Linked DNA regions of Homo sapiens. The protein of the gene in region 3 interacts with the protein of the main gene of each other region in a biochemical or structural test. Each region holds a gene or a part of one and is shown on either strand. Other genes may lie near its edges. The genes, in order: NEDD4, UBE3C, UBE2L3 and ARIH2.

The links.
Region 1: the proteins of UBE2L3 (region 3) and NEDD4 form a complex in vitro, tested with the Homo sapiens proteins (19 studies listed by BioGRID, with this or other methods).
Region 2: the proteins of UBE2L3 (region 3) and UBE3C form a complex in vitro, tested with the Homo sapiens proteins (6 studies listed by BioGRID, with this or other methods).
Region 4: the proteins of UBE2L3 (region 3) and ARIH2 form a complex in vitro, tested with the Homo sapiens proteins (8 studies listed by BioGRID, with this or other methods).

The regions. Positions count from the first base shown.
Region 1 is NC_000015.10:55,825,924-55,830,379, forward strand, and holds the end of NEDD4 (E3 ubiquitin-protein ligase NEDD4), read right to left. Parts: intron 4,077-4,456; coding exon 3,974-4,076; 3' UTR 999-3,973; downstream 1-998. UniProt on the Homo sapiens protein: E3 ubiquitin-protein ligase which accepts ubiquitin from an E2 ubiquitin-conjugating enzyme in the form of a thioester and then directly transfers the ubiquitin to targeted substrates. Specifically ubiquitinates 'Lys-63' in target proteins.
Region 2 is NC_000007.14:157,260,496-157,268,760, reverse strand, and holds part of UBE3C (ubiquitin-protein ligase E3C), read right to left. Parts: intron 1,177-8,265; coding exon 1,006-1,176; 3' UTR 1-1,005. UniProt on the Homo sapiens protein: E3 ubiquitin-protein ligase that specifically catalyzes 'Lys-29'- and 'Lys-48'-linked polyubiquitin chains.
Region 3 is NC_000022.11:21,563,177-21,571,613, reverse strand, and holds the start of UBE2L3 (ubiquitin-conjugating enzyme E2 L3), read right to left. Parts: upstream 3,901-8,437; 5' UTR 3,870-3,900; coding exon 3,843-3,869; exon of another isoform or gene 3,237-3,842; intron 1-3,236. UniProt on the Homo sapiens protein: Ubiquitin-conjugating enzyme E2 that specifically acts with HECT-type and RBR family E3 ubiquitin-protein ligases.
Region 4 is NC_000003.12:48,976,973-48,985,237, reverse strand, and holds part of ARIH2 (E3 ubiquitin-protein ligase ARIH2), read right to left. Parts: intron 5,757-8,265; coding exon 5,605-5,756; intron 4,886-5,604; coding exon 4,742-4,885; intron 3,605-4,741; coding exon of another isoform or gene 3,579-3,604; coding exon 3,510-3,578; intron 2,343-3,509; coding exon 2,259-2,342; intron 2,040-2,258; coding exon 1,968-2,039; 3' UTR 1-1,967.

The DNA.
Region 1 (4,456 bases), on a different chromosome or scaffold from region 3:
GGGGAACCAAGGGCACCTGAGTGAGGTATGATGGAAGGTGGAATTGAGACCTTAGGCTGAGGATGGACTGCATTCCATGCGAACCTCCATGCTAACGGGTTTGTGCTTCATGCTTTTGGCTCTGGGGAGCTCTCAGGTTTTTTGGCGGTACAGTAACCTGATCAAATCTGTGTGCTAAAAAGGAAACACTGATTGTGATGGAGGGACTGCATAGGATGCATTGCAGGGGAAGAGATGAGCGGAACAGAAAGAGGAGGCTAGTGTGATAGGCTTTAACTTTCAAGGAAAAAGACAAAAATCTACTAAGTCTCTTTCTTCATAATGAGGTACTGACATTCTAATACCTTAGTTTAATATCATTTATAAAATAAATGTCTGCCGTGATGGACAGCAAAGCAAGGACTTCTTGTACAGGTGGGGCATGCTGTGGGCTAGCTGCTGCCCGAGTTGGCTAGAACAGGAAACGTGGAAGCAGAGGGCCATGGCCTAGGTCCCCAAAATTAAAAGCTATGGCCTGGATTATGGCAGAAACAGGGGGCTGGAACAGCACCTTCCCAGGCTGGCTTGAGTGGGTGGGAGTGGATTCCCTTCTAACTGGGAAACTAATTCTCATGCCTGAGAGGAAGGAGGAAAAGACACTTCGTTCTGAATTAACACTCCGAACTCTTTTTCTCATAGAAATGATGTTGTAAATAGTGGTTGGCTACAAGAATGGCTTCTTTGATGAGCAGCAAGGTGCCTGAAATCCAGTCCATTTTTAGCTATTATTTTTATCTTCTGGCTATTTCACTAACAACCAGACTTATGCAATACGACCTTTTTGTAAAGTGGAAATTAATTATCTGTGGTTGAGAGTTTATAATCATGTTAGTTCATCAGGTAATAAGTTTAGGATTGCACTGAAAATTTAACGTGCTGCTGTGAGGAACTAGACCAGAAGACATCACCCAGCATACTGACTTGGAAACACTCCTATTTTATAATGAACCACAGTTTTGTTTTGTTTTTTAAAATCAGAATAGAACTTTATTTGTGGATTCAAGATTTTAAAAAATGATTTTACACTTTAAAGTGTGCAATAAATTTTGATACATCAATCTTGATATATATATTTACTGTGTCAGAAGATTTTAAAAAGTCAAATAGTTTATAATCAAAATGAATTGTGTTTAACTTGATACTTATATGGAATAACTTCAGCATTATAAATAAAAACCCAAAACAAACACCATTTAAATTTGAGTTCTGATGAAATGCATTTGTAATACAATTTTGTTAAAAATTTTTAATAAGAGATTGTAGGCTAAAGTTATATGCTTGTAATTTCTAGAAACATATGATGTCCTTGCTTTATGAAAATGATCCTACTGACTGTCCCGCAGTAGAATGCATTTGAGACACTTTTCTATCTGGGATAAGGGGCTGTGTTGCTTGATAGATGTTTCTTCCAGACCACGAGCCCCTAGTGGGAGATGAAGGGGATGAAGGTCTGCAGCTGGGGACTGGTGGCAGTTGAGTCTGGTCTCATTTAACATCATGTTCTATGAGTCACAGAATCATCCAAATGAGTATCAGCCAGATACAAAGAAAGCTTTGTATTTTCTCATGCTTAGATAGTTCACAAACATAATATTTAAATAATTGTGGCAAAATCCTGTTTTAACAAAAATAATTTTCACATTCCATTCTACATAATGAGGACATTTCCAAAATGCATTGGCCCACATTACTATTACTTTGCTGATATGAAGAAAATGAATTATGATGGTAAGATCCATATACAGATATACACATGTGTATCCATATTATTTATATATTTAATATCAGAAATGTTCCTACTTCCTTGTCTCTTAGAAGTCACTTTACTTTTAAATGATTCTTTGGGAGTGTGGTCAATTTGCACACCTGACTTGACACAATCTGACGGTCAGCACAAAGCACCTTCTGATTGTATAACACTTTACAAAGTACTTTTTGCTTTCTCATCTGTCTGGAACTTCTGACAATCTGGCATGACAATGAGGGTGGGCATGATTACTCTCATTTGACAGATGAAGAAATATGAATCCAGAGAGGTTAAGTAAGCTGCTTCAGTTCACATGGCTGGTGAGATATCAAACCAGGACTATACCTGGTGCTCATCCTTGACTGCTGGTTGACAATGGTGAAGACAAAACGCAGGGTACATTAATCTGTGAATTGCTTCCCCTAAACCATGCTGATGCTGTGGTGTTTGGAAAGTAGAAAGTGGTTTTGCTACTGTCACATTTCAGATTTCTATCAGGTGCTAATGAGTACTCATCATGTTATACCCCAACAAACTTAAACCAAGAACCAGAGGTACTTTTTACAGTTCTCACAGGGTGTGTATATATATATATTTAAGAAGATTCGTAACATATATTTACAATTATTCCTAAATCACCAAGATACCATACTGAGAAATAGGTTTAATCTTTTTAAGAGCATTTTCTATATAATCATTCCAATATAAGGATGAAACAATATAAGTATGAAATATAAATACAGTCTTGGCACACTTTATCTTTGCAGGTGTGCTGGAACCTAGAACACTTTCCCTTTTGCCTTATTCTGCTTACGCCTACTTTTGATTGTTTTACAAATTCATAGACACATTTGCAAGTTCCTTGAGGATCAGGACTCAGCTTCTCTGAAGCTGACAACTCTTACCCCAGAGCATAGCACAGCGCTAGGCACGCAGCATTCAATAAACGTTTGATGAATACATGTACATGGTCTTTATGTACTTCAGTTTGGTTAAAGGAAGATATGAACTGTAGCATTTTGCCTACAGAATTCTGGATTTGTAATTAAAAACATTGTCTTCATAGTAAACAGTATTTTAAAAGGCATAAGAAATAGTAATAAATTTAATACAAATTATGCATTATAACAACTCTTTGGTTATTTTAAACAAATTATTTGGTTTTTTTACTAGAGTGATACTAAAAATATAAAAATGCGACTACAGAAATTAGCTTAATCTGTAAACATGATAAACCCTGTAAACATACATTTACTACATAATTGTACAAGTGTAAAGAATATCTAGTAAAGGCAAGTGCTATACACTTCATTTAGTTCTTCAAGGCATATTTAGAAATACTGCTTTGTGGATCTTTAATGTTTGAAGAAGGAATTCTTCTAACTACACTAAAATATGAAAAAGTGATGACTATACCAATGGTCAATAGGATATGCAGGCAAGAGAAAGGCTTTAATACTTTTTACCCATTGCAAATATGAATTTGCTTCACATGTCTTATGAACCATCTGTTTAGTAAAACTGCATATTAACAAAAGCCAAATACTTCGAAAGTGAAGAAGTAAACAGTTTTTCTGTGAGTTAGTTGGCTAGAAATATAGGTAACACACTTTCCAAAGTTTTTTCCCAAAAATCTAGGCAGTAAGGTGCATAAGGCAGGTCTACAAAATAATAAATAGCTGCGAGTAGCACTAAATATATTGTAGTTTACTCAATAGTAAAGTATTTCTTTTTCCAAATTTCAGTTTTCCATCTCAAAATGCATCAAACTTTTCACACATGACACGTATCACAAATATTTCACAGTTATCATCTCAGTAGTTTAAGAAAAAACTGCCTGGCAGATACTATACAAGAGGTAAATGTTAAGGACAAAATTCACTATTTAAGTCATACAGGACTTATATCCTATTGTGTGAACTCTAAAGCCAGGTGTGGTGGTGCCTGGCTTTAGGCAGGCACCTAACTCTAAAGACAGCATGAAACAACTGTGTAAATGCAACACATTATTTAAAAGTGATTAAAAATAAGTTGTCGTACTATTTCTTCAAATGCTTTTTATATGATTTTCTTCAAGATCTGGGAAGACTCAGTGGCCACATTTTAGTAGTTCCCCGGAAAATTTTAAGTCAAGATTTTGGTTATAAAACTATGGCAGTAAAAACACTACAGATTGTTATTTGTAATCTAATCAACTCCATCAAAGCCCTGGGTGTTTTCAATTGCCATCTGAAGTTTATCCCATAATTCTTCAAATGATTCATAAGGTGGCAAGTCCAGGCGATTAAAACTGAAAGAACAGAGAGGAAGTGGTTATGAAAGACACTGACAAAGCAAGTACCACCACAGCAAACAGAGCAATGCTGCTATTCTTGATGAGAATGTTCCAACACCACCAAAATATGTCTTTTCACCAGGGGTAGAAGTAAGACGTAGGACTGGGTTCTGGGCATGGATACTCTGCACAACTCCTTGTGGAGTGCTGCCCCCACCACATCTTCCAAATGTCTGAGTTCTCTGCCACTTCAGCCTCCAAGATGGAATGTTCTAGCCTGTCTTGGGACAGCCCATCACTCATCACTCAGTTTAGGTGGGTCTCTCTGATCTTCAGCTACCTGGACTTCAAGCTTGGGCCAACTTGGTAACAAAACACCTGTTCGTTGGGTGTCA
Region 2 (8,265 bases), on a different chromosome or scaffold from region 3:
CACCAGGGACTGTCCCGTCTTCGAGTCAGAGCAGCACCAGGAAGCAGAGGGTGCCAAGCATGGCGAGTCACCCCCAAATATCCAGGAAGACAAGTGGGCGCAGCCCAGGGGAAAGGAGGGCGAGCGGATGATGGGAGACCGGCACGGCTAGCATCGGGACAAAGATGCAGCCGCCACTTTGGTTCAAACAACTTTAATGACACCACAGTGTCTGTCCTCCCCCAAGTAACTGGGTATAGTGGGTGACAGATGTTGCAGTAGCTTGGCAGACCCTCCTCCTCCACCTCCCCTGAAAGCTCTCCAGGCACAAAGTGGAGATAGAAATAGGACAATGAATGAAGTCCCCACCTCACATCCACAGACAGTATCTCCAAACCATCATGAGGCAGGCCACGGTATACTGAAAACAAGCATGCTAGTCCCATTTGGGGAAATGGCTTAAAAAGCACAAATAAAATATTACCATCATCATCTCTTTTCCAAACCTAACCACTTTGGGAAAGGCAGCAGAAAAAAAAAATGCCTTCAGTTTTAATAATGAGGCTTGTAAACAATCCAACCACATAAGCAGCAGCGGCCCCATGGCGTCTCAGCCCTCAGACCCTGTATCTCTGCCGCCTGTGCAGCCCTGTCTGAACCCTGGAGTGGCGCTGCCTGCTCAGGAGGGCTCTGATCTCACCAGCAAAGCCAAAGCTTCATCTTTGGTTAATTTCACTGAGATGCCACTAGTGTAAAAACTGTGCTCTTCTTGGCAATATTACTAAAGTAGCCACATGGCACATAACGTGTTATTTTAAGTTATTTGAAAAGCAATGTCCATCTAAATAAGTGACCACACCGTAATAAAAATCATTTAAAAAAGGAAGGGAGGGAGGAATGGCAGAATGAAAGAAGGAGCTTAGGAGAGCCTCAGGCGTGCAGTGTGAGTATCCTCGTGGGTCTGGGGAGGCGCTGCTGACGAAGGAAGCACTGGTTCTCTGTAGGGGTCTGACCCCAGCATCAGCTTCAGCTCAGCTCAAAGCCAGCGGCACATTCAATCGCATAGAGAAGTTTACTTCGCAAAAGTGTCTCGTCATAGAACTCGGGGAGCTTCAGCAGGTTCATGCAGGTGCTGGCTGTGGGGAGCCGCTCAAGGTCGGAGCCTCCGTTGTGAATACAAAATGCGGGATACAACTCCTGAAAAACAGCATGTGTGCAAGATGTCACTGTAACAAGCATGGCATTACATGAGTTTTAATACAAAGTACACAAAATGTGCCTGCTCCAATCAGTAAAGTTACCATTGCAGTCACATTTTCCCGAAACCACATTTGCTTTGTTGTTGTTGTTTGTTTTCTTTGAGATGGAGTCTAGCTCTGTCGCCCAGGCTGGAGGGCAATGGCGCCATCTCAGCTCACTGCAACCTCTGCCTCCCAGGTTCAAGCGATTCTCCTGCCTCAGTCTCCCAAGTAGCTGGGATTACAGGTGCCTGCCACCATGCCTGGCTAATTTTTGGATTTTTCCTAGATAAGGGGTTTCACCACGTTGGCCAGGATGGTCTTGAACTCCTGACTTTGTGATCTGCCCACCTCTGCCTCCCAAAGTGCTGGGATTACAGGCGTGAGCCACCGTGCCTGGCCCACATTTGCTTTTTTAAAAAATTACATTGATGGCTTAGTTCTAACTTACATAAAAGATTATGCACTGTGCTTCAGGCATAAAAAGGGATAAATAACATTCCAGGCCAGGCGCATAGCTCACACCTGTAGTCCCAGCACTTTGGGAGGCCTAGCTGGGGGATGGCTTGAGCTTAGGAGTTCGAGACCAGCCTGGGCAACATAACGAGACCTCATTTCCACTAAAAATAAAAATCAAAACAATTAGCCAGGTGTGGTGGTCTGCCCCTATACTCCCAGCTACTTGGGAGGCTGAGGTGAAAAGATGTCTTGAGCCCAGGAGGTCGAGGTTAGTGAGGTATGATCACACCACTGCACTCCAGCCTGGGCAACACACAGTGAGACCCTGTCTATAAAAATTTTTTAAAAAGGATCAAGATTTATTCTATCTTTCCTGTACAAGCTATTACTCGGGTTAACCAAATCATTGGTGAGAAGAAACAAAGCTGTTTTTAAATAGAAAATTCCAGCTAATAAATTATACAATTATGTAATTAGAACACGGCTGTTTTAGAAGCACATTAAACAATGGATCTAGGCAGTGATAAGTGACCACTAAAATCAAGAGGAATTCTGACGCAGAGATCGATCCCAGCATTGTGGGGAGATGACTCACGAGAAGTGGATCTCCACGATGATTAAGGGAATGGGAAGCATACGACATTACCTATGTGATGTTATTGCCAAAAAAAGAAAAATTCAAATTTAGAATCTGATGAGACCTCTATCAGTTTTCAAGAGATACAAAGAAGCAACCCAGTTACCCTATTATTTTTATTTATTTATTTTTTTGAGACGGAGTCTTGCTCTGTCACCCAGGCTGGAGTGCAGTGGTGCAATCTCGGCTTACTGCAACATCCGCCTCCCGGGTTCACGCCATTCTCCTGCCTCAGCCTCCCGCATAGCTTGGACTACAGGCTCCCGCCACCACGCCCGGCTAATTTTTTGTATTTTTAGTAGAGACGGGGTTTCACCATGTTAGCCAGGATGATCTCGATCTCCTGACCTCGTGATCCACCCGCCTCAGCCTCCCAAAGTGCTGGGATTACAGGCGTGAGCCACCGTGCCCGGCCCCAGTTCCCCTATTCATTAAATTACAAGACGAAATTGAGGGAGGTAGAACATCTATAGACCAAATGCATGATGAAAAGTGGCTTGCTTGTGCCAGAATTTAAATAATTGTTAACAAAAAAGAAAGATGATCAGGGAAATTTGAATATTGTTTTTCAGATGTGTTCATGACGTTCTGGTATTTAAAGGTACAGTGTGAAAATTCTCATCCCTGTATCACAGATACCCAGTTCCCATTCCCACTGGCAACCAACGCTTCAGCGTCTTAAGTGCTCCCAGAGATGAAATGCACGCATGAGAAAATGTTCTCCCTCCTTTAGGTTTAAAATTGAGACGGTGAGCACATTGGACACAGTATTCCGTGCCGTGCTTTTCTCATCTGATAATGGGTCTCGCTCATCTTGCCTATTAATGGTGAGGCTATATGGTGTTCCATGCACACGCGCGGCACGACGTGTTGCTGGGCACTTCTCTCAGCTTTTTACAAAAAATGATGCAATGAATACGTACCTGGTTTTCACAGTTGTGCAAATGTATCTGTAGGCAAAAACCGTGTTAGGGATTGCTCAACGCAGACTTAATGCATGAGACCTATGGGCGTGTCGGTCCTCTGATGGCCACGAAGAACCGGTGACTCCACCTTCCTCGTATACACAAACACCATTAGCTATTTGCCTCACATTTGAGATACGTGATTTATGTGTTCTCTTCCAACAGGAAGACAATAAGGCACAGATCGCCCTCAGTCTGCTCACTGTCGCAGCCTGTGCAGATTTAGTATCTGGCACGGGTTTCAGAGACCTAGCTAGGTCAGCCCTTCCCTGCACACGTGTACACGAAACTCTCTGAGAGGTGGGCCTGGCAGCAGGAGCAGGGGCTTCACCCACATTCACAACTCCTGGGACTGTACTCTAAGAAATAATTAGAGATGCACATGATAATTTATGCACAAGAGGTTCACAGCATCACAACGAAGGAAGAGCTGTAAACAACTAAAAAACAGAAAGTAAACTGGTAAATCACATGATGGGACACTACAAGCCCATTAAAAATATCTCAAAGAATAACATGAGGAAAAATGATCCTGATGTAATGTTGAGTGAAAAAGGTAGCCTAGAAAACTGAACACAAGATACAGCTAAAATTATATTTAAAAATTACGTGACCAGGAGCAGTGGCTCATGACTGTAATCCCAGCATTTTGGGAGGCCACAACGGGTGGATCACCTGAGGTCAGGATTTCTGAGACCAGCCTGACCAACATGGCGAAACCCCATCTCTACTAAAAATAAAAAATTAGCCGGCTGTAGTGGTGCATGCCTGTAATAATTCCAATTACTCGGGAGGCTGAGGCAGGAGGCAGAGGTTGCAGGCTGCAGTGAGACGAGATCACGCATTGCACTCCAGCCTGGGCAATAAGAGTGAAACTCTGTCTTAAAAATATATATGTTTGTGTGTGTGTAACAGGCTGAGCATGTTGGCTCACACCTGTAATACCAGGTGTGTGTGTGTGTGTGTAACAGGCCGAGCATGTTGGCGCACACCTGTAGTACCAGGTGTGTGTGTGTGTGTAACAGGCCGAGCATGTTGGCTCACACCTGTAGTACCAGGTGTGTGTGTGTGTGTGTAACAGGCCGAGCATGTTGACTCACACCTGTAGTACCAGGTGTGTGTGTGTAACAGGCCGAGCATGTTGGCTCACACCTGTAATACCAGGTGTGTGTGTGTGTGTGTGTGTAACAGGCCAAGCATGTTGGCTTACACCTGTAGTACCAGGTGTGTGTGTGTGTGTGTGTAACAGGCCGAGCATGTTGGCGCACCCCTGTAATACCAGGTGTGTGTCTCTGTGCTTAACAGGCCGAACATGTTGGCTCACACCTGTAATACCAGGTGTGTGTGTGTGCACGTAACAGGCTGAGCATGTTGGCTCACACCTGTAATACCAGGTGTGTGTGTGTGTAACAGGCCGAGCATGTTGGCTCACACCTGTAGTACCAGTGCTTTGGGAGGCTGGTGTGGGAGATCACTCAAGGCCAGGAGTTTCTGACAGCCTGGGCAACAGAGCAAGACCCTACCTCTACCAAAAACAGAAAAAATTATGCATATCTACATTAACACACACTCATGTAGGTAGATAAAACACATACTAATTAAAGGAAGGAAACATAAAAAAATAATGGTTAGAATGGGAGGAAATATAGGTTTCTTATACTTGATCACAATTTCCAATTTTCTATAATGAAAACATTACTTTTACTGAAAGGTAAAAAAAAAAAAAAAAAATCCAATATAAAAAAAGTGCTTTCGGTGCCAACAGCGCTCCCACAAAGTGAATGTTCCTAATACTTGCTAGACTTTTTTTTTTTTTTTTGAGTTGGCGTCTTGCTCTCTCAACAAGGCTGGTGTACAATGGCACAATCTCGGCTCACTGCAACCTCTGCCTCCCAGGTTCAAGCAATTCTCTTGCCTCAACCTCCCGAGTAGCTGGGACTATATGTGCCCATCATCACACCTAGCTAATTTTTGTATTTTTAGTAGAGATGGGGTTTCGCCATGTTGGCCAGGCTGGTCGAGAACTCCTGAACTCAGGTGATCCGCCCGCCTCAGCCTCCCAAAGTGCGTGAGCCACCACACCCGGCCCCCGTTCGACTTTCTGTAAGTGTGGCAAGCCCACAAAGCGACACGGCACAAAAGGGCACGGATTCTCTGTATGCCCGGGAAGGTGGCGTTAGGACAGGCGCCCGGGGAAGGTGGCGTTACGACAGGTGCCTGGGAAGGTGGCGTTAGGACAGGTGCCCGGGGAAGGTGGTGTTAGGACACGAAGCATAGCGGCTACGGTGGGCAGACTAAGCTGATTTTCCGGGAAAAGGCTAGAACTACGAAGAAGCTTGTGCTGAGGCTTGAGTGCGTTGAGCATAGGTGCAGATGTAAGAGGATGCTGGATATAAAGAGATGTGAGCATTCTGAACTGGGAGGACAGAAGAGGAGGAAGGGCCAAGACATCCAATTCTAAGTGTCATCTTTTGTTTTATTATGAAGACAATACAATCTTGAGTTTATGTTCAAAAAAATTTAAAAAATAGAAAAGGTAATTACCTTCTAACCATTGTAGTCAAATGTGAATCAAACTAGAGCAATGTCCCATTCTGCAGGAACCTTTGGAAGCACTGAAGCTGTCACAAAGCACAACAGGCACCCAACTGGCCACACCCACATTTCAGTTGGATTTTGTTTCAATTATATGTTGAGTTTAGCATATAATTTATGTTAAGGGTAAAACTAGTAAGAGCACAGCCCACAAAATGCTATGAAGAGGATGGGCGCGGTGGCTCATGCCTGTAATCCCAGCACTTTGGGAGGCTGAGGTGGGTGGATCACCGGAGGTCAGGAGTTCGAGACCAGCCTGGCCAACATGGTGAAATCCTGCCTCTACTAAAAATGCAAAAAAATTAGCTGGGGGTGGTGGTAGGTGCCTGTAATCCCACCTACTCGGGAGGCTGCGGCAGGAGAATCACTTGAACCCAGGAGGCAGAGGTTGCAGCGAGCTGAGATGGGCCATTGTACTCCAGCCTGGGCAACAGGAGCGAAACTCTATCTCAAAAAAAAAAAAAAAAAAAAAAAAAAAGCCTATGAAGAGACTTACATGATTCTTATTACTGATCTTTGTAGGTCTCTTTACTGTTAAATGTAAACTTCATTAAAAAATATATATGTGGCATATAATATGTGCTAAAATCCATTGTCTTTTTTTTTCTAATTATAGTTTATTTGCTCCTTTAAATCTCTCATAAAAATGTTAGAATGAGAACCAAAGGAGAACCAGAAATAACATTTATTACACTTATTATTCAGCATTCTGAGTACATGAGGGCAATAATTTTCACAAATGCTTGAATATACTAAAAAGGAAGCATTGCATTTTTGAAACAGAAAAGGATCTCTGAATGAAGGGGTCAGTGACTGCTGGCAAAGTCACTGGATAAATGAAAAGCTTAAAATATATTTTGCAATTAAATGCCACATTTTAGTGTTTCTTTCATAACGCTAATTGAATTTCCTACTTGGAGACTTAAAAGTAAAAAAATGAAGTTCTTCACTGAAATCTGAGTCAAGGGCACCATTTTGTGCATAATTAAATACAGTACAACGGGAATTTGCATTAATTCAGAGTGAGAAAAATCATTAATTTATTATGTGGCCTGATGGTAACTTAACAATTTTCTACAGCACTTTAATGATTTTTTGTCTGTAACAATCACATTTATTAAACATATTAAACTTTAATTAGCTTTAGCAGATGTTATTCTTCTCCAATAATCTGGCACTAAGGAGTTTCATAACTTTAAAATTATGCCTGCCTGCCTTTGCTATTTATAGTACTTCAACTGAAAGACATTCTCTTCCTTTAAGTCTACATTAATTCTGCAGCCCTGGCAAATCCAGGCATACTAAGCTAACCGGAAAGCCTAAATATTAAGATGATTTTTCCAAACTGGATGTCTAACATATAACAACTTCAAAAACACTTATCATGGAAAAATCAATTAAATTTCACATATGTTAGAACATTGAGAAAAATAAAAAAAACAGTAAGACCGTCTCATGGATGCTCAAAGTGTTTTCCACGGTATAACTCAATTATGATTGTGCGGGGTCTTGACTGGGGTAGGATTTTCCCTTTTAGTCTATTTGGGATTTTTTTTTTTTTTTTTTTTTTTTTTTTTTTTTCAGACAGAGTTTTGCTCTTGTTGCCCAGGCTGGAGTGCAATGGTGCAATCTTGGTTCACTGCAACCTCCACCTTCCGGGTTCAAGCCATTCTCCTGCCTCAGCCTCCCAAGTAGCTGGGACTACAGGCATGCACCACCATGCCCGGCTGATTTTTTTTTTGTATTTAGTAGAGGCGGGGTTTCATCATGTTGGTCAGGTTCGTCTTGAACTCCTGGCCTCAGGGGATCCACCCGCCTTGGCCTCCCAAAGTGCTGGGATTACAGGTGTGAGCCACCGCACCTGGCCAGTCTATTTGGGATTTTAAAAGCTCATGTAAATCCCTCTACTTCTGTTCCCCTAAACCTACGACGCTCACGCAGCACAAGTGGCCATGCACGAACCCGGAGGCATCACGGAGGTGGAGAAGGCTCTCGCACTCCTAGGCACACGTTATTGCTGGCTCTTTAGTTGGCTGTCAGAATGTCTAGAACCTACGTCTGGCAGGACTTCGAATTTTTATTGCTACTCACATGATTAGCATTATCTAATTAGCCAGGAGCTGACAAAAGTCTCTGCATCTTCCAGTGTTTTGATGGGAGCAGGTCCTCCAAACTTCCTTTTATGAAACTAGATGAGATGCATAATTTTCTTATCTCTAGCTTTGGAACAAACCAGTTTTGAAACAAAGATACTAGAAGCCTTGTCTATCATAATAAATGTTAATGACAAAATTACCAAATGGCATTAAAATCTTTACCGATAAAAAGTCGTCTGCACGCCTCACCTGCAGTCCTCCTGCTCTTTAGTCCCCAGCACAGCAAGCCCTCCAGA
Region 3 (8,437 bases):
CATGGCAAACATGGTGAAACCTCCTTTCTAATACAAAATTAGCAGGGAGTGGTGGTGCACACCTATAGTATCAGCTACTTGGGAGGCTGAGGCAGGAGAATCGCTTGAACCTGGGAGGCAGAGGTTGTAGTGCACAGAGATCGTGCCATCGCGCTGAAGCCTGGGCAACAAGAGTGAAACTCCTTAACTCAACAGTTATGTCATGATAAGTAATAAGACATTACACACACACCCCTCTAAATCCACAGATTTCCCCTCTGAGAAAAGCCCTTCTGGGAAGCTACTCAACAGGAGGGCCCTTAGGGGAAATGTGTGCAGTGTGAAGCTGCAAAGAAATGATCAGATGGCAATCAGTTGCCTAAGCCACACATAAAGGTTTCACTTTTGGCTTTTGCAGCAATTTCCCCATCCTGATTGAAGCAATGGTTACAATCTGGTTGTAGCCAACAATGCTAAATTAGCTGCTTGCAAATTAAAATGTACTTAATGTTTTATTAACACTGTAATTCCTAAAAAGGCTTCTAAAAGAGGTTAAGCCTCCTGGCAAGTGCTTTTGAAATAAAAGACTTTATCATACTCACTTTGCCTAAAATAACTTCTCAGTGTAGTATATGTAAATCACTCTACTTTTAATAATGTGTTTTACACTATCTGCAGACAGTCCATTGTTACAAAGAAATCTTTGCTGTGGAATGTCCTAGAAAACATTTTTAACAGAAATCTAAAGTTCTTTAAGATGTAATTAATTTGATCATTCAACATTTGCTAGATTGCTATGCCTAAGGCACTGTTCCATGCACTAAGCCCCAACTTTTCACCAACGAAAATCACTTTATTACCACCCTATGTACTGAAAAGACTGTTTATCAACTTGTATCAATAATTTTTCTTCCTTTAAAAGAAAAAAAAAACAGTCTTAAACATTGATTCTCACAGCCAATGATCAGCATTACATAACTGGTGTTCCCCTAGTGAACTGAAAGCCTTTCCATCCTCAACTTAAGAAACAACACACCGCTCCATGCAGCCTTTGAGTAAGAAAGACAGCCTGACAAGAGGCATGGAATTTGGATCCTGGAGCCAGGAAGAGTCAGCGTCTTCTCTCTCCCCACCACGTTCCACAATTCTACCTTAGGTAACTCCCTTAACCTACTTAACCTCACAATGTCCTCATTTATAAAAAATACAAATGACAATACACTAACTTTGAGTGTTGAAAAGATGACTTACGTAAATAACCTAATACTTAATAAATACTCAGTTAATGTTACAATTTTTTTCCAAGGTCTGTTTTTTTTTAGAAACAGAGTAATAATTTTAAAACCATAATAAGTCCCCTCTTAGACCCCTGAGAGCCTGGAGATTCCAAACTGGGTCAACTGGGATAGGCTAGGGGGCTACCAGGATGAATTAGGTCAAGATCCCTGCCCTTCGGGATCTCAGAACCCAGTACAGGAAAGACAAGTCTGTAACACAAAGAGATTGTGACAAGTGCTCAAAGAGAAATATAAAGAAAGCGCTGTGGTCACACAAAGGAGGAAACAACACATTCTGAAGGGGGATGTGGGAGCACGGGCTCACAGAGTAGTTGGCACTGGAGTTGAACCTGGGACTTCTCTGGAAGGGAGAAGTGAGGAGAAGGCAGCTTTTCTTGGGTAGAGCAAACAACACGTGCAAAGGGACATCAGACAGCAAGTAAGAGCAGGAGACTTTGCTTTGGAGAAAGAACCGAATTCGATCACAACTCACTCTCCCTAGCTAGGTAACCCTGGGCAAGCCAAAGAATCTTTTCTCATCGACAAAATGGAAATCACAATGTCTACTTCACAGGAAGGATTAAACATGATCATGCATATAAAGCACGAAGTAAAAGCTGGAAAAATAGTAGCTACTGTGATTAGGTGCAAGAACTGTGGGAAACCAAAGGGCAGGAGGTGAGGCTCAAGGGATTGCTTTCAGCCAGTCTCAGAAAGGTCCTGCATGCCAAGTAAGAGGTTAGGATTAACTGCTGAGGACAATAACACCATAGAGGTTTTTAACAGGAGTGAAAGAATTGAGTTATCTGCTTTAAAAGAACTCTGGTGTCCGTCAGGGGTAGTCTGGGGAGGAGAGCACTTGGGAGGGCACCTGAGAGATGAGGATATAGATTCAGAGTAATTTCAGTAACATTAGAAAGCAAGGCATGCACTCCAGAAATCTTTTTTTTTTTTTTTTTTTTGACATGGAGTCTCACTCTGTCGCCCTGGCTGGAGTGCAGTGGTGCAAACTTGGCTCACTGCAACCTCCACCTGCCGGGTTCAAGCGACTCTTCCACCTCAGCCTCCCGGGTAGCTGAGATTACAGGCAAATGCAACCACGCCCAGCTAATTTTTATATTTTTAGTAGAGACAGGGTTTCACCATGTTGGCCAGGCTGGTCTTGAACTCCTGACCTCAAGTGATCCGCCCGCCTCGGCCTCCCAGGAGTGCTGGGATTACAGGCGTGAGCCATCGCGCCCGGCCTGCACTCCAGAAATCTTTCTAAATTTAAATCCACAAGGGTTAATGGACGACTGCACCTGGGAGTAGGGTAGGAAAGAAAGCCATTAACCGACCCCTTATCTGGTGAATGGTGGTGTCACTAGCTTAAGAGATGAGGAGAGGTCTGAAGTCCTCTGACTGTTCTTTTGTGCCCACTTCCACTCCAGTTTTATAAAGTTAATGTCCTCTCTAGCCCTTAGGGAACAAAAGAAAGGAAACGTTCCCAGGGACGGAGGGAATGCTCAGAGACTGTGGCTCCAAGTTCAATGTCTAGCTCTACCAAGCACTGCTCCGCCTAGAACGAACCCCAGCTCTTTATCTCCCCTCAGGAAACTGGCTCCTGGGCCTTTTTTTAATTTCCGGCCCGTTGCAGGCCGGCAGCACTACCCAGCCGCCGACTCACAGATGCTGGCGGGGTGGGCTACAGAGGACCTTGGCAAATCCACTGGCAAAAGTACTAAGCCAATTTAGCATGTGTTCCTCACCAAAAGGTGCCAATTAGCGAGAAAGCACCCTGCTGCATTCAAGATCCAAAGTACCAAATTATTATTATAAACTTTGGCCCGTTTTGATTCGAACGACTGAAATCAACCGTTATCCCCCCAAAAATGGCACTTTATCAGGGAGGGGAGATCGGGATGACTGAGTGGAGGAGAGGGAAGCAGAACCGCGCCGCGATCGGGGCCGACCTCAGGCCTTCCTGGAGTTGGAACTTACCCGCTGTGTGACTCTGCAGTCACAAGGCGACAGTTTGCTAGGACCCAGCGCAATTCCAAACGACCCACCAACAAACTGACCTAACTTTGGCCGCCTGGCCTCCTTCTCTCTTTCCTAGCCCGAACCTCCCAGACTCCCGAGCTGCGGCCGGGCCAAGCGGAGCTGCAAGCCCGGCGCGCTGCGGCCCAGGGCGGGGCGGTTCCGCGGCGCGGGCTCCGGGCAGGGGCTCCGGCGCTCGGGCCTTCCCCGAAGGCGCCCGGTTTGGAGCCTCCCAACCGGGCTCTCACATTAACGACGCCCTCAGATCGGACCGCGGCCTCCGCGACAGGGGGACGCGGCCAAGCTCCGGGCGGAGAGTGGCGTGAACGCCCCGGGCCGGGCTGAGGGGCCGACAGCGGCTCCCAGCGCGGCCTTGCGCTCCCGCCCAGGCTGCGGCCTAGGCCAGCCCCGTTAGCACCTTGAGCCTGCGCGCGGCCCAGGGAACCGACGAGGCCGTGTAGGGCAGGAAGCCAGACGGCAGCGCCCTGAGAAGCCGCCGCCTGCCTCGGGGATCCGGAGCCTAGGACGCCGCCCCACGCCCGGCCGCTGCCAGAGAATGGCTTTTACCTTCATCAGCCTCCTGCTGGCCGCCATCTTGGATTTGGTGCTGCTCCTTCCCCAGAATGCATCGCGGCCGGCCGGGCGGCTGGAGCCCCCGCACTTCCTGGAGCGGGGGAGGGGCCGCGGGGCGGGGCACAGGAGCAGAGCGGAGCACCTACTGTGTGCTTCCCACTGTGCTGGGGGGCGCGTGGAGGAACGCAAGTGAACCGCACAGACTGGGCCTCAGCGTTTACGGATCGTCCAATCAGATGGCAGTTACAACCAGTGCCTGGCACATAGTAGGAGCATAATAAATACTGATTGCATAAAATAGTTGACCAGGCGCGGGGGCTCACGCCTGTAATCCCAGCACTTTGGGAGACCGAGGCGGGTGGATCACGCGGTCACGAGTTCGAGACCAGCCTGGCCAACGTGGTGAAACTCGGTCTCTACTAAAAATACAAAAAATTAGCCAGGCGTGGTGGCGGGCGCCTGTAATCTCTGCTACTCAGGAGGCTGAGGCAGGAGAATCGCTTGAACCCGGGAGGCAGAGGTTGCAGTGAGCCGAGATCTTGCCACTACACTCCAGCCTGGGTGACAGAGGAAGACTCCGTCTTGGGGGAAAAAAAAAAAGTTGAATAACCAAGGTTACTTCACACTGCCAAGCTCTGTGAAGAAAACTGGGTGATAGGAAAGTGACTGTGGGGACATACTTTGAGAGGTCAAGGAAGCCAAATTGAGGAAATGGCCCTACTAAGTGCCAGACCTCTCTCTAGTGCTTTATTTTCTTTAACCCTTGAAACCATCCTCTGGGATACGTTAGCATTAACATCCTCATTTCACAATAAACAGAAGCACAGAAGAAGCCAGTGACTTGCCCAAGGTCACACGGCCAGCTAGGAGCAGAGCCAGGCTCCTGTCACAGGTGGGCTGCTGGCTCCAAAGCCAATGCTGGGACCTGGAAAATGGGAAGGAACAGCTGGGAGGACTGGAGGAGAATGTTTCAAGCAGAGGAAGCAGCACTGGCGAAGACCATGAGGCTGTCTCAGTGTCCAGAATGGAGTAAAAGGATTATAGGGTGGGAGGGAGGCAGGGGACAGACCATGGAGGGTCTTGTAGAAAGGGGAGGAGTTGGTTTCTATTCCATGTGCTGTGAGAGGTCTTTGATAGATATGAGTATTGACTCCATGGTCAGATGATTTTTTTTTTTTTTGAGACAGAGTCTTGATCTGTCACCCAGGCTGGAGTACAGTGGCACGATAACAGCTCACTGCCGCCTCGACCTCCTAGGCTCAAGGGATCCTCCTGCTTCGCCTCCCAATTAACTGGGACTACAGGCACGTTCCACCACACCCTCCTAAGTTTTTTTTTATTTTTTGTAGAAATGAAGTCTCACTGTCTTGCCCAGGCTGGTCTCAAACTCCTGAGCTCAAGCAGTCCTCCCGCCGCAACCTCCCAAAGTGGTGGGATTACAGGCATGAGCCACCACACCTGGGCTGAGACGCATGTTTTAAAGAGTACTTTGGGGCTTGGCACAGTGGCTGATGCCTGTAATCCCAGCACTTTGGGAGGCTGAGGGGGGTGGATCACTTGAGGTCAGGAGTTTGAGACCACCCTGACCAACATGGTGAAACTCCGTCTCTACTAAAAATACAAAAATTAGCCAGGTGTGGTGGTGGGCGAACGTAATCCCAGCTACTCTGGATGCTGAGGCAGGAGAATCGCTTGAACCTGGGAGGCAGAGGTTGCAGTGAGCCAAGTCCGCGCCACTGCACTCCAGCCTGGGCGACAGAGTGAGACTCCATCTTAAAAAAAAAAAAAAAAAAAGGAGTACTCTGATTGGAAAATGGGGAATGGAGGTGGGTAAGAGGATAAGAAGGGGAGCAGGGGCCACTTGGAAACCGGTTGCAATCATTCAGGCAAAGAGGTGACAGTGGTTTGGACCTCAGGTAGCAATGCAGAGAGAAGAACATAGCTTCAGAATATACTCAGACCTTCTTAAGGAGTTTTTCTCTTTTTTTTTTTTTTTTTTTTTTTTTTTTTTGAGACACAGTTTCACTCTGTCACCCAGGGTGGAGTGCAAAATGGCATGATCTCAGCTCACTGTAACCTCTGCCTCCCGGGTTCAAGTGATTCTCCTGCCTCAGCCTCCTGAGTAGCATAGATTACAGGCACCTGCCACCATGCCCAGCTAATTTTTGTATTTTTAGTAGAGACAGGGTTTTAGCATTTTTGGCCAGGATGGTCTTGAACTCCTGACCTCAAGTGATCCACCCACCTTGGCCTCCCAAAGTGCTGGGATTATAGGTGTGAGTCACTGGGCCTGGACATTTTTCTCCATTTCTAAGAACAGTGGGTTTCTCCTGAAAGGAGAGAAGGAAAGGGAACTGGAAATAATATATCCTGGGGCCGGGTGTGGTGGTTCACACCTGTAATCCCAGCACTTTGGGAAGCCGAGGTGGGTGGATCACGAGGTCAGGAGATTGAGACCATCCTGGCTAACACGGTGAAACCCCATCTCTACTAAAAATACAAAAAATTAGCCGGGCGTGGTGGCGGGCGCCTGTATTCCCAGCTACTCGGGAGGCTGAGGCAGGAGAATGGCGTGAACCCGGGAGGCGGAGCTTGCCGTGAGTGGAGATAGCTCCACAGCACTCCAGCCTGGGTAACACAGCAAGACTCAGTCTCAAAAATATATATATATAGATATATATATCCTGGAATAAGGCTGGCCTCACACTCATCTTGGGAGCCCAGGCTTGACACGGTAAAGGAGGGAGAAACTAGATGACAAGCCTCATGTGATCAGCGATTCTGCCTGCCTTTTACCTCCCCCAAGGCCAGTACACTGAGTGTTCAATACACATTCAGCGTATGCATGAGGGACCCCATCAGATCTCTAGGGTCATGGTGGGACTTAGAAGTCTGGGACTGACTCTGGGGTCTACTGTGAGCACAGAACCTGCCCTTACTGGGCCCAGGACAAATAAAAAACATAGCTGTATTGGGAACTGCTTTCCTCTGTGGAGAATTACGGAGGAAGGGGACGCTTACGCTGAGAAATTCCAAGCCAGTTGAGGAAGCACAGTTCATACCTTTGACCCGGATGTGCTAAGCTGAGAATACAGAGTGGGATCATCAGAGGCTCAATGTCAAGGACTAGCCTTTGCCATGGCATCTTCTTACATCCTCACCGCTGCCTGCAAGATGACTCCCTTGCACTTTGCAGGTGGGGAGTCAAGCCGCTGAGCTACAAAGTGCTTTTACTAAACAAGCACTCAGGAAATGTACCCAGTCCCAGTGGAAGGGCTGCCTGGCCTTTGGGGTCCCTCTCCTGCTCTAAAACCTTCATTGCTCCCTCTAGCAGGCCTGGCTTCTAGTCATACCCGATCCCCTCCACTCAGCCAAACCTTGTTCATACAGACCTATCCTTTCTGTGCCATCTGCCCAAGCCTCCCATCAGAAGTAACCTTGTGGTGACTCATGCCTGTAATCCTAGCACTTGGGGAGGCCAAGGCAGGAGGATTGCTTGAGCCAAAGAGTTTGAGACCATCCTGGGCAACATAGGGAGACCCCGTCTCAACAAAAAATAAAAAAAGAATTAGCCAGGTGTGATGGCCAAGTAATTCTAGCTACTTGGGAGGCTGAAGTGAGAGGATCACTTGGGCCCGGGAGAGTGACACTACAGTGAGCCGTGATCGTGCCACTGCACTCAAGCCTGTGTGAAAGAGTGAGACCATGTCTCAAAAAAAAAAAAAAAAGAAAGAAAGAAAAGAAAAAGAAGTAGACTTTTTTGGCTGCGTACAGTCTCACACCTATAATCCCAGCACTTTAGGAGGCTGAAGCGGGAGAATTACTTGAGGCCCGGAGTTCAAGACCGGCCTGGGCAACATAGAAAGACTACCATATCTACAAAAATAAATAGTCCAGGTGCAGTGGCTCACACCTGTAATCCCAGCACTTTGGGAAGCTGAGGCAGGCGGATCACAAGGTCAGGAGTTCGAGACCAGCCTGGCCAACATAGTGAAATGCCGTCTCTACTAAAAATACAAAAATTAGCTGGGTGTGGTGGAGGGTGCCTATAGTCCCAGCTACTTGGGAGGCTGAGGCGGGAGAATCGCTCGAACCCGGGAGGGGGAGGTTGCAGTGAGCCGAGATCACACCATTGCACTCCAACCTGGGTGACAGAGTGAGAGTCCGTCTCAAAAAAAAAAAAAAAGTATTAATTTTTTTTTTTTGAGACGGAGTCTCGCTCTTCGCCCAGGCTGGAGTGCTGTGGCGCGATCTCGGCTCACTGCAACCTCCGCCTCCCGGGTTCACGCCATTCTCCCGCCTCAGCCTCCTGAGTGGCTGGGACTACGGGAGCCCGCCACCACGCCTGGCTAATTTTTTTTTTTTTTTTGGTATTTTCAGTAGAGATGGGGTTTCACTGTGTTAGGCAGGATGCTCTCGATCTCCTGAGCTCGTGATCTGCCCGACTTGGCCTCCCAAAGTGCTGGGATTATAGGCGTGAGCCACCACACCCGGCCAGTAATAAATTTTTTTTTTTTTTTTTTTGAGACGGAGTCTTGCCCTGTCGCCCAGGCTGGAGTGCAGTGGCGCAATCTCGGCTCACTGCAACC
Region 4 (8,265 bases), on a different chromosome or scaffold from region 3:
AGCTGGACACAAGTACAGAACCTGGCAGCCCTGCAGCCCAGACAATGCCCAGGGTGTGATTTAGGGTGCAGAGCTGCAACTCAGATCCTGTGCCATGGCAGTATCACAGGAAGGACTTGACGGAGAGGTGAAGGCTCCAGACGCCAGGATATTTATTCCCTGTGCCAATACAGCATTCACACCTGACCTCCAGGTCCTGCAGCAGGTACTCTCCTCATTCACAGTTAGCTCCCCACTGTTCCATTCTGGGTTCATTTGCTATACTCCTAATCTGTTCTCCCAATCCACCCCACAGTCTCTCCCTTGCTGGGGACAACACAGGAAGAGACAAAACCTGAGGAAGGAAAAAGGGAACCTGCAACCAGCCATGGACCTCATGATCCCATGAGTCACAGCTATCCTCTGTCTTTAAGAATGACTGTTTTATAGCTTACATGGTACCTGGGAAATTGCTGACTTGCAGCTGAAATGTATGAATACCAAAGAATTTCTATCACAATATTCACAGATCTCTGTATCAGCTCTACTTGGAGGTCAAGCAGGCTTGGGAGAGTATAGACTGCTCTGCCTGCCCTAGAGTGGAAGCATTGAACAAAGCCACAAAAACCCCAGAGATCACAGATCTAACTTTTCAATGGCCCACAGGACCAGGTTCAGGACAGGTAGGACACCAGGCAAACCACTTGTTCCCTTGCGCTTCATTGTGCAAAAGCTGGTCTGTTCCTCTGGCCAGACCCTCCTTAGTACAGGATCTCGGACCACAAACCAAGGAGTCTCGTGGCCTTGGATTCCCAGACCCTAGGATGGTATCCCTCTGACAGCTGGAACCAGGCAAGGGGGAACACACCTCAGCCTCAGAGCAGCCTCTGGACACTCTCCAGGTAACATGAAAATAACTTGTGCAAACACAGCCCCCATGCCAGAAAGTCCAGTGCCCTAGGAAGGGCTATCCTGAATTCTGACCCTGATGTTTGCCAAAGGAGAATGCAGCAAGACAGTGTCAGGTTTGGCCAAATGTGACCCTGCTCAGAGCTATACCACTTGAATACTGGCACAAAAGAAAGGACCAAGGTAAAGCAAATTTATTTGGGAGGAACAATTCCCTTCAAAAGTAGATCCCTATCTTTAGGAGACAAAAGGCAACACTGTGATGAACCCACACCCCCTAGTTTGGGGGGCCACAGGCCCAACCCCATTCTGCTGTGGGCTCTAGCCTCAGTAGCCAGATCCAGGTAAACCTCAGTTTCAAGAATAAAGGTGAGCCACAGACATGCAGCACCACCAGAGACAACAACACCCCGTGGCAAGAAGACCATGTTCTGGACTGTCTCCGTACTGCCACGGTAAGGCAGGAGGCATGCTGTGACCCCTTGTGCTCCATGCCCATTGCACAGGCCAGTTCAATTCCCTACCATCTGCCACCCATGCTCTTCTTTGGGACTACAACTCTGGCCAAACGTGAATATGGAAAGCAGAGGCCCAGGGCCCTCTTGCAGTACAGACATTTTGAGGTGGGTAGGCAGCATATGTTACATTCTAAGTAAAACAGCTAGAGGGTAAAACACTCCAATGCCAATTTATTTTCAAAAAGGGCTCTGTGTTATCCTATAGTTTGCCTTTTTTTTTTTTTTGTATAATTGTACAACCTTTGAAAGTTACATAAGTTGTAATGATCTAATACTATTAATAGCCATTCAGAAAACACTTTCCCTCCCTCCCAACAACCATCCAGGGGGAAATAAAAGTCCTGAAAAGAGGCCAGTTCAACATGGCCTCTACCCTGGTAGAAACAAAAAGTGAAAAGAGAAGAAAACAGAAATCAACTAAGAGGTGTTGCCAGTGTCTCTCAGGAGTGGGGCCCTGGCTGTTGCCTGGGGTCATGAAAGGCAGAGCCTGCAGCATGCAGTATGGCAGCCGGGAGACCTTGCAGCCACATCTTCCTCACCCCGGCACATCCACATCCCAACTTAGGTGTCATGGAAATCTTTCAGCAGGGTTCTCCTCCGCTGCTCCGCTATATGCATCTGGTTCTCCAAGTCCTGCATCAGAGAAACAAGGTGTGTGCTTGCATGGCCCAGGCCTGGGAGCAAGGAGTAGCCAAAGCCACAAACACCCTCCAGGACCTCCAAGGAGTCAAAAACACTGCCCTTCCCATTCTTAGCAGCAGCTACCAGTGCACAAGCCAACAACGCTGTCACCTATTACCATGCCAGTCCTCTACCTGCAATATAGAATCCAAGAGGACAGTAGGCACTTACCCCTCTGTCATAGCTGTCTGCACGCTCCACTTTCCATGAGAGGTTTTCGATCTCAGCCTCCAGCTGAGCCTGCTGGTATTCAAACTGTATAGGCAGAGCAGGAGGGTCAAAAGGTGAGTGGGCTGTGGCTGGGGCAGGGCCTGTACACGGGGGTGGGCACATGCAGCACCTCAGGCTCACAGGAACTACAGACAATCCTGATACTGTCCTCAGAAAGTAGTGTTATTCCCTGTGCCCAGAGCCAGAATCCAAACAAAAGGCTATCCAAACAGCAAGGCCACATTCACCCTCGACCCTCAAAAGGTCCACTCCACCCTCCACACTCCCAAAGGCAGGCAAAGAATTTAAGCCACTAAAGAGAACACTCCCAACATGAAAGGGAATGGATGCTGTAAAAAATAAGTCAAATGAATATTCTCAGACACTATCACTTCATTTTTTTCAGTCCTCCAGCAAATCAAGAGCCTTAAAAATATTCAAACTTAAATACTTAGTAATCATACATCTAAGAAGATATACAGCTTTATGCACAAAAATATTCCTCAATGTCCTATTTATAGCAGTGAAAGAAAGAAAGAATAAATGTCCCAAGTGATGGTACAATCATGTAATGACACATTTATGCAACCATTAACAAAATGGTATTTACCAGGCAGGTAAATCATAACAGCTATAACAATAAACTGTTATAACAATAAAATGTTATATATAACCTTGATTATATATACACAATGTTAATTTTAAAAGGCTGGAAAATGCTGACAGTGGTAATTTCTCTCTGGACAATGTAAATGCTTTTCTGTTTTCCAGCATTTAAACAAAAATGTTAATTACTAGTTTATTAACACTATTGGTAATAACAATAAATTCATATTCAAATTCAACTCTAAGATGAAGAATTAAACAAGGTATAAAACAGTCAAATATATCTTAAGGACATGCATGCTAAATATCCCTCCCAAGCATGGGCACTACTGGCCTCCCACTGGCCACAGACCTTTTTAGCCAATCGCCCTTTAAATACAGTTGTTCAGAGGATTAGGTGCATGTGCCTTATATGACACAAAATAATAGCACCTGAGATCTATTTTGGAGGTGCCCAGAGCAGAAGTGGAATTTTGCAATTAGAGTTTTGTTTTAACTTTGCCCTCCCAATGACCAAGGTCTGGTCCTCACTCTCCTGCAAAGTGCTGGTAGAGAAGGGCACCTTTGAGGCTAACGGGACAGAGTAGAAAAATTGCTTTGCCTTACCAGCTTCTTCCTGGGTCCGGACTCCATGTAATATGCATATGGGTAGGTGTATTGCAGGGTGTATCGACACTGCAACAGGAGAGAAGAGAAGGAACCTGTGTCTGTGATTCTAAGCTACCTGCATCTCAGGTGGCTCTTACAATTCCTACCCTCAACATGCAAATTAGCCCAGCTCTATAGATATAGGCCTGAAAGAAATGATACTAGGCCAAATAGAGGATGAATTGGGAAAAGACATGAGGGAAAAAACAAACAACGATGGTCACAGAACACCCACAGTTTCTTTTACAAACTGATTATCAGCAGCTGCCTCAATGGATTTTCCCTCTTGAGTAGGACATCAGAGTCAACACATCTATCTCAATGCTTAGCCAAAGACAACCTTTTTTTTTTTTTTGAAACAAGGTTTTGTTCTGTTGCCCAGGCTGGAGTGCAGTGGTGCAATCCCCACTCACTGCAAACTCTGCCTCCCAGACTCAAGCGATCCTCCCACCTCAGCCTTCCAAGTAGCCAGGACTACAGGTGTGCATCACCACACCAGGCGAACGTTTGTATTTTTTTTGTAGAGACGGGGTTTTCTCATGTTGCCCAGGCTGGTCTCAAACTCCTGGGCTCAAGCAATGCACCTGCCTTGGCCTTCCGAAGTGCTGGGATCATAGGCGTGAGACACTGCACCCTGCCCAATCTTTTTTTTTTTTTTTTTTTTTTTTTTGACAGTCTTGCTTTGTCACCCAGGCTGGAGTGCAATGGTGTGATCTCGGCTCACTGCAGCCTCTGACTCCCAGGTTCAAGCAATTCTCGTGCCTCAGCCTCCCAAGTAGCTGGAACTACAGGCATGCACCACCATGCCCAGCTAATTTTTGTATTTTTATTAGAGACAGGATTTCACCATGTTGGCCAGGCTGGTCTCAAACTCCTGACCTCAAGTGATCAGACAATCTTTTATTTTCCTTTGAGTGATACATAAACAGGACAAAAGGAGAAGAAAAGTGCTCTAGTTTTCCCTGCAGGCAGAGGCAGTGCAACACTCTTATAAATCCCCTGGACATCCATCAGAGGACTGGGTCCTTAATGGGCACAGCACATGAAAATGTGGATCCACAAGCAGAAGCATGAAAGGCTGCACAGGGTGCTAAAATACCCTCTTTCAACAGAGCTTCCCACTATCAGAGGTCTGTGCCTGACGGAGCCAGGCACTGGACCAGGGATAAGATGAGTGAAGTGGTAGATACCTTGGCCAAGAGCTTGGCAGCATTCTGTAGGTACTGCCAGTCGATCCATGTCCCCAGATTGTTCATGACCCTCTCCTGAATCTTCTCGTGAATCCGCTGGTATGTCTGTGCCTCTAGCTGCAAGCTTTTATTGTGGTTTTCCCACTACAGGGCACAGAAGAAGAAGAAAACCACAGGAGTCCCATGAAGGTGCAGAGGTCTACACAGGAGTTCAGGATAGACACCTTGCTGGCAGGACATGGCCACAGACTCCTCTAACTTATTCCCCAAAGTGCAAGAGCAGGTCTTCTTCAGTCCATCCTTCTAACCTGTCCAGAGCAGCTGTATGCTTACTGCCAGATCGCTCTACCCTTCTGGGGCAACAGGACTCGAGCCCTGAGGACTCTGCAAAGCTAGGCCCCTGATGGTCTACTATGCTTAGAGACCATTATGCATGGGGCTCTTTGGGCTTCTAAAGGGCTCCCTGGGAGAAACTGCCTTCCAAATCTGACTACTAAGATGATACTATGGGAACAGATTGTGAGGACAGAAAGAAAAAAATAAATAAAAATTAAAAACGTAGAAAAAAGAAAAAAAAAAAAAGATGGTACTAGATGGAAAAGACTGTCTGATGGCCCTTCATTGTCCTTCAATCCATCATTCAACCAAGGTCAGTACCAGGTCCTTCCCTGTTGGCTGGGGATATACCCTATAGAGCTTGAAAGGCACATCTATAGAGGCAGCACCAGGGATACTGCAGGAGCTCCATTCACTGACTTCTATGTGCACAGGCTAGCTCTGTCTACCAGTCCCTGGGAATCCCACCAGCAGGCCAAGTGGAAGAAGCCTACCCTGTAGGGGAAGGTACAGGAGAGGACACCTACCCTCTCAAAGTAGAATAAGTACTTCTTGAGGGCTTCCCTCGCCTGGGCTTGTTGGCTCTGGTTCACGATGTCAGGATTCTCCTTGTAACGACTGCACTCATAGTATTCACTGCCATGAGTCTTCCAATCTCCTAGACACATCCAGCAGAAGTCTGTGCAGAACAGAGGAAGAGTCATTTACATCTACAAGACAACTCCACTTTCCTCCATAGGCAGAGGAGTGAGACAGACAGACCCTGCTCCCAAAGGGGTCACCTGAACACAACTTCCCAAGGGTGCCTCTTTCCCGAAGGAATGTGCACCTCTCATCCCTGTCACATCCTACTGTCCTTGTAGCCTGTACTTGCTGATAGGAACAAAAGCCTATGGATAATTTCTATTCCATGAGCACATGTGCCATGCGCCTTATTAATCTAACACAGGCAGATGCTGACCATACAGACTACTGGTCTGCTATGTCAATGCCACTATAAGAAGGAGGAACTAGTCCAACTGAGGCCGACCTGACTGTCTTAAACGCACATCATCAGTACAAACTGACCTCCCTACTGCTTCCTACCCTCACACTTGTCCTAGAAAGATTTTTGTATATGAAACTAAGAATAAAGGCTTTCCCCCTTTTTCTTCTATTTTAAAAAACACATTTCTTATTTTTCTTTTTCTTTTTTTTTTTGAGACAGAGTCTCACTCTGTCACCCAGGCTGGAGTGCAGTGGCGCGATCTTGGCTTACTGCAACCTCTGCATCCCAGGTTCAAGCGATTCTCTTGCCTCAGCCTCCCGAGTAGCTGGGACTACAGGTGCCTGCCAACATGCTGGCTAATTTTTGTATTTTTAGTAGAGATGGGGTTTCACCATGTTGGCCAGGCTGGTCTCGAGAACCCCCAGTGTTCAGTGATTCGCCCATCTCTGCCTCTCAAAGTGCTGGGATTATAGGCGTGAGCCACTGCGCCTGGCAAATAACACATTTCTATAAAACCTAGAGCTATCCAATGGTTCATAATCAGAATTATGATTCTGCTTTTGCGGTAGCTCACACCTGTAATACCAGCACTCTGGGAGGCCAAGGCGGATGGATCACCTGAGGTCAGGAATTTGAGACCAGCCTGGCCAACATGGTGAAACACCCGTCTCTACCAAAAAAAAAAAAAATATATATATATATATATACACACACACACACACACACACACACACACACACACACACACACATACACAAATTAGCCAGGTGTGGTGGCACATGCCAGTAGCTACTTGGGAGGCTGAAGCACGAGAACTGGTTGAACCTGTAGGGCGGAGGTTGTGAGCCGAGATTACACCACTGCACTCCAGCCTAGGTGACAGAGCGAGACTGTGTCTCAAAAAAAAAAAAAAAAATCCCCTATATGTTCAAAAAATTATTGTTAGATGCTCAAAGAATTACTGCAGTCTAATGGAGAGAAGCCAACCACAGTTTTGTTGGATGAACAATGGCCTGTTGATATTCTGCATTCCATGAGCACATGGGCTATGTGCCTTGTTATATCTGTGTCAAGGCTGCTATGAGAAGCAAAACTTGTCTGAAGTCCTCCTGGTTGTCTAGAACACACATTGTTCTAATAATACCTTATTAGATTTTATATCTGGCCTATTCTGCCTCTTCCAGACCCTGACAATGGTAAATCCTGTTTCCCAGGATTCACTCTCCAGGGATAACTTGGCTTACTGACTTCCCCAAAAATGAGGCTCTTGAATCATTTTAGGGAAGCCAAAGCAAAACCCGGAGACCCAGAGGTTGTTCAATTTTTCTCCTCCTGGGAGCCTTCACCTAATAGTGGCAACAATGCCCTCTCCTTAATTAGCTAGGTGTGCTTGCTACCATTTTAAAGAACAATACAGGCCGGGCACGGTGCCTCACGCCTGTAATCCAAGCACTTTGGGAGGCCAAGGTGGGCTAATCATGAGATCAGGAGTTCACAACCAGCATGGCCAACAAGGTGAAACCCCGTCTCTACCAAAAATACAAAAAATTAGCTGGGTATAGTGGCGGACGCCTGTAATCTCAGCTACTTGGGAGGCTGAGGCAGGAGAATCGCTTGAACCCAGGAGGCGGAGGTTGCAGTGAGCCGAGATCGCACCACTGCACTCTAGCCCAGGCGACAGAGTGAGACTCTGTCAAAAATTAGCTGGGTATGGTGGCATGTGCCTGCAGTTCCAGCTACTCAGGAGGCCGAGCAAGGATAATTGCTTGAACCTGGGAGGTGGAGGTTGCAGTGAGCCGAGATCGCACCACTGCACTCAGCCTGTCAGCCTGGGTGACAGAGTGAGACTCCATCTCAAAAAACGAAACAAAACAAAACAAAAAACCACATTCCCTACGGTTGCCCATATAGGTGGTATAAAACATACAGCAAAGAAAGAGATGGCAGTTTTTTGTTTGTTTGTTTGTTTTTGAGACGGAGTCTCACTCTGTTGCCCAGGCTGGAGTGCAGTGGTGCGATCCTGGCTCACTGCAACCTACACCTCCCTGGTTCAAGCGATTCTCCTGCCTCAGCCTCCCGAATAGCTGGGACTACAGGAGTGCGCCATTGCGCCTGGCTAATTTTGTATTTTTTTTTAGTAGAGATGGGGTTTCACCATGTTAGCCAGGATGGTCTCGATCTCCTGACCTCATGATCCGCC